Linked DNA regions of Homo sapiens: all the other regions are linked to region 1. Evidence: fine-mapped expression QTL. A gene starts in region 1. Each other region holds a variant in brackets. All regions are shown on one strand. Distances are between the middles of the regions. Region 1 holds the start of TOX2 (TOX high mobility group box family member 2). Region 2 overlaps TOX2 (TOX high mobility group box family member 2). Region 3 overlaps TOX2 (TOX high mobility group box family member 2).

The links.
Region 2: its variant is fine-mapped to the expression of TOX2 in whole blood (INTERVAL, PIP 0.91).
Region 3: its variant is fine-mapped to the expression of TOX2 in whole blood (INTERVAL, PIP 0.97).

Annotation. Positions count from the first base shown.
Region 1 is chr20:43,913,686-43,916,442 of GRCh38, forward strand. It overlaps TOX2 (TOX high mobility group box family member 2), which reads left to right and starts at 1,167. Exons shown (of 9, transcript NM_001098797.2): 1 at 1,167-1,305. The coding sequence starts at 1,207. RefSeq lists silencers at 818-937, 1,038-1,137, 1,158-1,267, 1,318-1,407, 2,478-2,537 and 1 more and enhancers at 904-1,621, 1,622-2,339.
Region 2 is chr20:43,944,122-43,946,878 of GRCh38, forward strand. The region is part of intron 1 of TOX2 (TOX high mobility group box family member 2); the gene reads left to right. Among named protein-coding and RNA genes, the nearest start is that of TOX2, 31 kb to the left of the region's middle. The variant T/C (reference allele first, on the strand shown) is at 1,681.
Region 3 is chr20:43,948,740-43,951,496 of GRCh38, forward strand. The region is part of intron 1 of TOX2 (TOX high mobility group box family member 2); the gene reads left to right. Among named protein-coding and RNA genes, the nearest start is that of TOX2, 35 kb to the left of the region's middle. RefSeq lists an enhancer at 1,836-1,925. The variant T/C (reference allele first, on the strand shown) is at 1,672.

The DNA.
Region 1 (2,757 bases):
CCCAAGCAGCAGTTGAGAACTAAGTTCTAAGCTAGCTCCTGAGTGGGCAGGAAGCTCAAGTCCTTTTCTCCCAATGGCATCCTATATCCTGGTGCCACACAAGAATGCCATTCTGGCTGACTTCGCCTCCTGGCCTCTCCCAGTCAGACATACCTGGAGCAGTCAGTGAGCAGTGAGATTGCTAGGGGAGATTGCTAGTGTAGACAATTCTTGCATGAAAAGGGGGATGGGGGTGCAACAGTCTAGCAACCAGCAAGTGATATCAAGAACTAGAGGGTTTTTTTTTTTTTTTTGGTTGGGGAGGAACCCCATTTCACAGTCACCTTTCTGACCCACCATCAGAGCCATCCCATTCCAATCTCATTTTCTTCCTTTCCTCACTCCAAGAGACCGTGACTGTGGGCAGATCCTAGACCCCTCTTCAGAGCTTCGGGCTCTAGGCATTCCTGCGGCCCTCCCCTCCCTATCATTAAAAGGGGTGGGGTCCTGCTGCCTTCTCCAAGTGGTTTCAGCTCTGGATCCTTTGGGGGCAACGGAGCCCACCCGCCTGGAGCTCCATTACTGATGCTGCAAGTTTTTGACTCAGTTTCCCCATATGTGAGTGAGAGTTTAAGCGCGGCAATCTCCAGGGGGGGCTGTCAAGCTGACTCAGATCAGTGAGACGAGGAGGGGGCGGGCATGCTAAGAGCATCCTCCGGCGCTGGCCTGCGTCCCCCCAGGTAAGGCAGCACCCATCTCCAAAGTGGTCCTGTCACCACCTTCCTCTTCCCCCCGCACCCACGCCGCGGGGCGGGGACTAGCGCCGCCTCAAATATTTAGGGCAAGGGAGTGTCCCACTTCTGGGGAGGGGTGCCGTTCGGGCTTCTCTCCTCACCGTGGGTGGCGAAAGGCGGGACGGAAAAGCGCCGTCTGGACAGGCGCGCCCCCCTCAGGGATGCAGGGCCGGGCGGGGGACCCGGCGGCGGCCCAGCCCGGAGGAAGGACCTCCACGCCCCGGCCCGGGCCCCCGGGCCCCCGGCCCTAGGCAGCGCCCGAGGCCGGAACAATAGCGCGCGCGGGCGGGGCGGGGGCGGGGGCGGGGCGCTCCTCTGGGCACCGCCCCCGGCCCGCCCCCCGCGCTCGCAGTCCCGCTCGCACACTGGCTCCCACCCGCCGCCCGCCCAGGCACTGCCCGCGGGAGCCGCCGCCGCCGCCGCCGCGCCCGCCATGGACGTCCGCCTGTACCCCTCGGCGCCCGCGGTGGGCGCGCGGCCCGGGGCCGAGCCGGCCGGCCTGGCGCACCTGGACTATTACCACGGCGGCAAGGTAGGCGGGGGCGGGCGGGGGTCCCCGGCGGGCGGGGCCGGAGTCACCTGGCAGCTCGGGACTCAGGCGCTCCCGGGGTCACACGGGGCCGCGCACATCAGCCCCGCCGACGGGCACGGGCGGCTCACATCGATCCCCTCGCGGCCACGCTCACGCCCTGAGTTGTTGGGATCGCGGGCAGAAGTCATCCCGACAGCCACCCGTGCGACGACACAGTGGCCCCTCACTCGCGTCCCCCTGACAGCCTCGCAGTCATTCACAAGCCGTCACAGTGACCCACAGCCACACGCAGGCGGCCAGGCACTGCTTACACGGTCCCGCCGTCCCACGCAAGTCACCCTGACAGTCACTTATACACAACGACACGCAACCACTCACCCGCAAACAGCCTCACCGCCACAGACGAGTCACCCACAGACGCTCCGATGCCCCACACACCGTGACATGCCCCCACCCGCTGTCACACCCAGGCACAACGGGGGACAGTCACACAAAGAAGTCGCCCGACAGTCACACTCTCGCAGCCACAACGCCTCACCCAGGCGCACGCTGTCACACACAGCCACCCCCCTGGACGGTGAGCCTCAGACACAGATCGTCCTGACGGCCACACAGTCACACGCGGTCACACCCAGGGACGGCCACACCTCGGTCATCCACACTCGCGCGTCGAGGTTTAACTTCTCAGCGCCGCAGCACACTAATTGGGCAGTTTACTAATTGGCCGTCACTGCCTGGCGGGGCCTCGGATTCCGAGTAGGCTGCGGCCAATCGAGGCCTGTGTCCTCCCGGGAGCGGTGAGCCGGCGTCCCTCCAGGCTGGGGCTGTAGTGCCGGACACCCTCCCTCCTCCATGTTTCCAGGATCTATCCCCCCACCCCAGCCAGGTCCCAGCTGCGCTGCGCCGGGCGCATTCCCAGTGATGGAGGCTTGCGTGCCTGGAACCCCGAACCCGAGGCGTCAGGTCCCACTGCCGGGTCTGGCCCAGCCTGGATGGGTTGGGTGCCTCTAAGCAGTCCGCGTCCCCTTCGGTCGCCGGAGAGGGAACTTTCAAACTTAGTTAGGAAGCCAGACTGTCCGCGCGTCCGCCAGTCGGTGCGTCGGTCCCGGGCCGGCTGGAGCCAAGCGCGGGTTTTCGTCACTCGGAGCCCGGATTGAACAGCGCGCGTGGGTTTCCCGCAGCCCTGGCGCAGACGCGTGGGCTCCGTGGCGATGCGGGGTGAGTGCGCGTCCAGTGGCTGGATCGGCGCCCCCCAGGGTCTCTCCCCAACCTCGCAGGCTTTTCGTCAGGCCCCTGGTAGTGGGGATGAGGCAGGAGAGAGGCGTCCCGGCGCGGATCCCGGGGCCTCCCGGGCTGGGCCTCCCTGAGTGCGCCCTCAGGCCCCAGGGGAGCGGCTTCTGGCAAAGCCTCCCTGCAGTTCGCCAGGGGCAGCAAGCATCCAGGCCACTAGGG
Region 2 (2,757 bases), 30 kb after region 1:
AGACGAGTGTCATGTGCCTTGGATCTATGGGTTGTGTGCACTTTCTATCTGGTGAGCACGCACTGTGTGTCAGGCCCCATGCTGGGAGCCAGGACCCAGAGATGAGCAAGACAGACGATCCTGACCATCAAGAAGCTCAGAGCCTAGAGAAGAACAATAAACACAGAAACAAAAGCCATCAAACACATGAACAGAAACGATTGGCTGCAGGAGTGTGCTATGGACAAAGTAACTCAGGTGCAGGTGAGATTAGAGGAGCTCTCTTTGGGGAAGAAGGAGATCTTTGAGCAGAGCTGGAAGGATGAGAAGCAGTCAGTTGTGTGAAGGTCAGGGGAAGAGCATTCCAGGCAGAGGGAACAGCATGAAAAAGGTACAGAGGCAGGGAAGCAAGACTTTTTTCCTTTCTGGAGCCTTTTGTAATCCCCCTTCCAGCCTCTCCCTCCTCCTGCAGACACGCTGGGCACCAGCCCCCTTTATCACATGACATTTGCTATTCCCAGGCCGTTCTCTCTGTCACTTACTTTAGTATTGTTACAAGTGTTCAGGAATAGGATGATTCCCCAGAGCGCTTCCTGCTTAGTCTGGATCCTCTCAGCTCTGTGGTGCTTCCTCAGCAGCCTTTGCTGCTACTGAAATGTCCAAAAAATTAAAATTAGTTTAATAGCACCTGGCATAGTACATGACACTTAATAGGTACTATTATCCCCATTTTACAGGTGAAGAAACTGAGGCTCAGGGAAGTTAGCCATTCCAGCAGGCAGAGCTAGGATTCGAACCCAGCTCTGTCTTATTTCAAAGTCTGCCTTCTTCATGGAGCCCTAGTTTAACTGCATTTGTGCGAAAGCTAATGAGAGACTGCTGGTTAATCCTTAGTGCCCGGGGCCAGCTTTATCCCAAGCCCGATCAAGGCTTGTGGTGGGTGACCTTGGCCTTTGGCCTGATGGCTTCAGAAGAGTGGAAAGGAACCAGGGGAGGTTCTTATTTTTTTGTTTTAAATTACAAATGTAATACACGCTTGTGGTAAAGAAAAAAAAAATGAAACAAGAAAGAAAAAAGCAGCCACTGAAAATATCTCCTCCTCCCTAGTGTAACTGCTATTAACAGCCTGGTATCTTTTATAGTGCATGTTCAAACACATACATATACACCGTTATTGTTTTTATAAAAATGGAACCATGTCCTTGACTTTTTCTTGCAGGCAGTTCCAAGTCAGTACCTACACACCTTCCTCATTCCATCAGATGTATTTCAGTGTATTCAACCAGACCCTGGCTTTCGACATTTAGCTGTCTCTAATTCTCTCTGTAACAAGCAACATCCTTGGGCATGCATCCATGCACTGAGTACAGGTATTTCTGCAGGATGGATGCTCAGAAGTCTAATTGCTGAATGAAAGGGCATGCAAGTTTCACACGTTGACAGGTGCTGCCAATTTGCCTTCCGAAGGCTCTTCCAGTGCAACACCCCTCCCAAGGCAGCGTGTGTGAGTGGGGAAGGCTCTTAAGCCACAAATGACGTGGAGCCGCGCTGTACTTAGGGGCTGCCTCCCCTTCTGCTCCCCGAGACCTGGCGTGGAGACCGCCACCAGGAGCTCCGAACACGCAGGCCCAAATTGGAATAGGAGATGGATTTTGATAAAAGAGGTTAAATAACAGGTTTTTCCATTTCACCTTATACGAA[T/C]GGGATGGGGGGTGGGGGTGCTGGGCCTCCAGCCAATAGAGGACCAAGAGTTGTCAGGAGGGCTTATAAAGCTTGCTATTTCTGGCATTTTTTCCTCTTTCTCTGCTGATTATGCAGCAGACTCGCACAGAGGCTGTCGCGGGCGCGTTCTCTCGCTGCCTGGGCTTCTGTGGAATGAGACTCGGGCTCCTTCTACTTGCAAGACACTGGTGCATTGCAGGTGTGTTTCCGCAGAAGGTAAGCAGCGGGTGCCCACCGCCCCATGAGGTGGAGGTGGTCAGGCCGTCACTGTGGGCTGAAGATAGGTGATGTCTGGATGGGGGCAGGCAGGGACCTGGACTGGTGCTTGTCACATTCTGGAATGAAGATGCTTTAGAGGGGCCAGGAGGCCTGCAGTTGGCAGCTCCTTCTTGGAGAGGAATTCTGGAGGCGGTTTGGGCTGTCCTCTGGAGAGCAGGGTCAGGCTGTGGCCTTGGTGCCCAGGCTGCTCAGGATCATTCATTCATTCATTCATTCATTCAGCACACCCTGCAGTAGGCCTGGCCAGGTGTGGGTTGGGGGGTCTGGCTGATTCAGACTGGAAACAATGGGAGCAGTAATGGGGATGGCCCATGGCTTGGGAGGAGCCCAGAAGATACCTGGGCTGAAGAGTGACAGGGGCCTTCCAAGAAGGCAAGACGGGTGAGAAGCAGCTGAGGACGTCACCAGGAATACCCGAGCTGCCTCTTCCACTAGATTTTGGAGTTTGGGGAATCAATAAAAATTTCTTGCCAAATTTGGTGAATGCCACCTTTTCCGTTTGTGAAGTAAGGACATTAAAAAATAACCAGTTGGGATCTCTACGCAGCATACTTTCGTAGAAGAAAGGACAGCAACAAATGAGAAAGGAACTAAGGGGACTTAAGGGGACACACATGCCCTTAATAGGTGGCAGAGATTTCAAATGCAGAAACCTAACGTGAAGGGGCCATCCCAGCTGTGCCTGGGAGGCTATCTTGGTGATGGGAGTTGACTGGGTTGGGGGCGGGGCTTGTTGCTGTTGATGGTGCTGCACCCAGCAGACCAGGAGACCCGACC
Region 3 (2,757 bases), 35 kb after region 1:
GGGAGGCATGAAATATAGATGGGGAGATGGGGAGTGAATTCTCCAGCTTCTCCTGGGCCTGGGGAGCCATTTTCCAGGGAGGGCCTCGGGAACCTCCTGCTGTTGGGTGTTGAGATGAGCCTGGAGTAGCAATTGGGTGGACCTGGATTTTTAGCCTTTGGTCTCTTGACTTCTAGTTGTGAGGCTTGAGGCAGCTCACTTAACCTCCCTGGGTCTTCCTTGCTGTGAAGAGCAATTGAGGCCATGGGAGCAGCAGCCCCCTAGTCATGGGGGGATTGGTGTAGAAAGGCAGCTTTGATTTGCATGTCCTCACCCCAGGGGCTCATCTAGAAGGAAACAGTTACTCTCAATGGCCCTTTTCCTGATTCACACCCTCCGTCACCTCAAAATGCCCCTTCTACTTTGTGCCCACTTTTTATATATGACTGTCCACCCCTCGGCTTAGGCCACAAATGTGGGATCATCTTTGACCCCTTTCTCTGCCTTACTCCTTGCATCTAATCCAACTGCACTTGCTGCTGGCTGTACCTTCAGGGTGCAATGACTTCTCCCCGCTTCACTATTACTTGTCACCGGGATGACCGCAGGAGCCTCCTCCCAGGCCTCCCTGCCTCCACCCTTCCTCCTTAGTCTGTTCTTCTCGCAGCAGCCAGTGGGATCTCTGAGAACCACCTGATGCGCACATCCCTCCCTGCTTAAAGCCTGTGGTTGGTTGTCTTTTGTAATCAGCTGGATCTGTTCTGATACCTTTAATATACCCACCTGGGGGAGCTGGGCACCTGTCTGATCTCACTTTTTGCAGTCCACAAGCTAGCTTCTGCCTCCTGCAGAATCACTGTCCTGCCACCTCCTAAATCCGCTTCCCCACTGACCAAGCTATTGTGCCTCTTAATTTTACTTTCAGACCCCTTTGTCTGGAATGGTTCTTTTACCCCTTGGACTCCTGTTTATTCTCGCAGGTGTGGTCACGACATCCACGGCTTTCCAGAAGCCTTCTCTGATTGCCCCCACCGTCTAGCCGCAACTATCAGAGCCAGGGTCCCCTTCCCTGTGCCCGCTTCTGTCATTGTCCTCCCCATCAGTGCTGTGATGCTCTGGGAGGACATCACCCACGATGATGCACCTTTATTCTCACACGTGCTGCAAGGCCAGACAGCACAGAAATGTTAATTTAGGCAGTAGATGCAAAAGACCTCCCTGCAAATTAAGGGCCTTCAGACCTAGACAGACTGGAATAGGATCCTCAAACTGGTTTGATTTGGCTGTGACCTTGGACAAGCCACCTAGCCTCTCTGCTTTGGAGGGTCACGAGGATTGACGAGATGACATGTATAACAAACATCCTCCTCTTTCCCACTTGCTGGATTGTAAGTGTTCCCAAAGACACTTGGAATGTTTAACCCCTCACATCTGCTCTGAGCAGAGCAAACTCAACAATGCATAGACGAGCCCACCACAGAACCCCAAACAGGAGCAAAAATAGCAGCCATCGGGGCAACCTGAGATGCAGAAGCCACAGGAAGAAGCCGCAGGCCAAGCGGATGTCAGCGGCTCTGAGGCCCTGCTGAGGTTCCTCGGATGTGCTGAGCTCTGCAGCCCTCTCGCCTGCCCTCGCTGGCTCCCCAACCACAGCATCAGATAAGGCCGGTGGAAAAAGTGCTGGCTTCCTCT[T/C]TCTGGGGAGGGGTAATCTCAGTGCCATCTGTGGGGCACACTCCATCCCCAGTTGCCTCTCTGGCCTCCCCTCCCCCTCCCCACTGCTTGCTCTGCCTGTCTTTGCTGGTCTCTTTGCTGACCGAGGTCACACCTGCCGGCAGCTCCCATCTTAGGGCCTGTACACAGGCTGTCAGGCCCTGGAATGCTCTCCCCAACACATCTACTTGGCTCACTCCCTCACCTCCTTCCAGTCTTGGCTCCACTATCACTTCCTCAATGAGGCCCACCTTGACTGCTCTGTTTAAACGTGCATACCCTCCATCTCGACATTCCCAATACCCCTCACCTGCTCAACTCTTTCTTCTTTCCATATACCATGTAAGTCACTTATTGACTATGTGTATTGTTTTCTATCTCCAATGCAAGAGCGTAAACTCCAGGGGTCTTTGTTCACTGCTGTCTCCCAGGATCCCAGAATAGTGCCTGGCACAAAGTAGATGCACAGCAAATACTTTTTTGGTGCACGGACGCATGAGTACATGAGTAAGAACCAGCCCAGCAATCAGAAGAGGTTCAGGCTAGATTTTGGGGTGAGGGGGGTTTGTTTCTGGGCTCCAGGCCCCAGGGATGGGCTCACGTAGTCATTAAGGATTCTGGCCCCATGATTGACCTGCATTGGCCAGAAGCCCCTGCTGACCTTCAGGGCGATAGCTGTCTGGGGCCAGAGAAGGGTCTGGAAGCCTGTGGTCCCTTTCAGGAGGGACCCTTGCAGTAGTTAAGAGTTTGGCTTTGGAACCACATTGCTGTGGGTTTGAATCCCAGCTCCACCACTTCCTAGGTAGATAGCCTTCACGTCTACCTCTCTGTATTTGAGTTTTCTACCTTTAAAATAGAGTAGATAGGCCGGTGTGGTGGCTCACGCTTGTAATCCCAGCACTTTGGGAGGCTGAGGCGGGTGGATCACTTGAGTACCGGAGTTCAAGACCAGCCTGGCTAACATGGTGAAACCCCGTATCTACTAAAAATACAAAAAAATTAGCCGGGTATGGTGGCGCACACCTGTAATCCCAGCTACTCGGGAGGCTGAGGCAGGAGAATCACTCG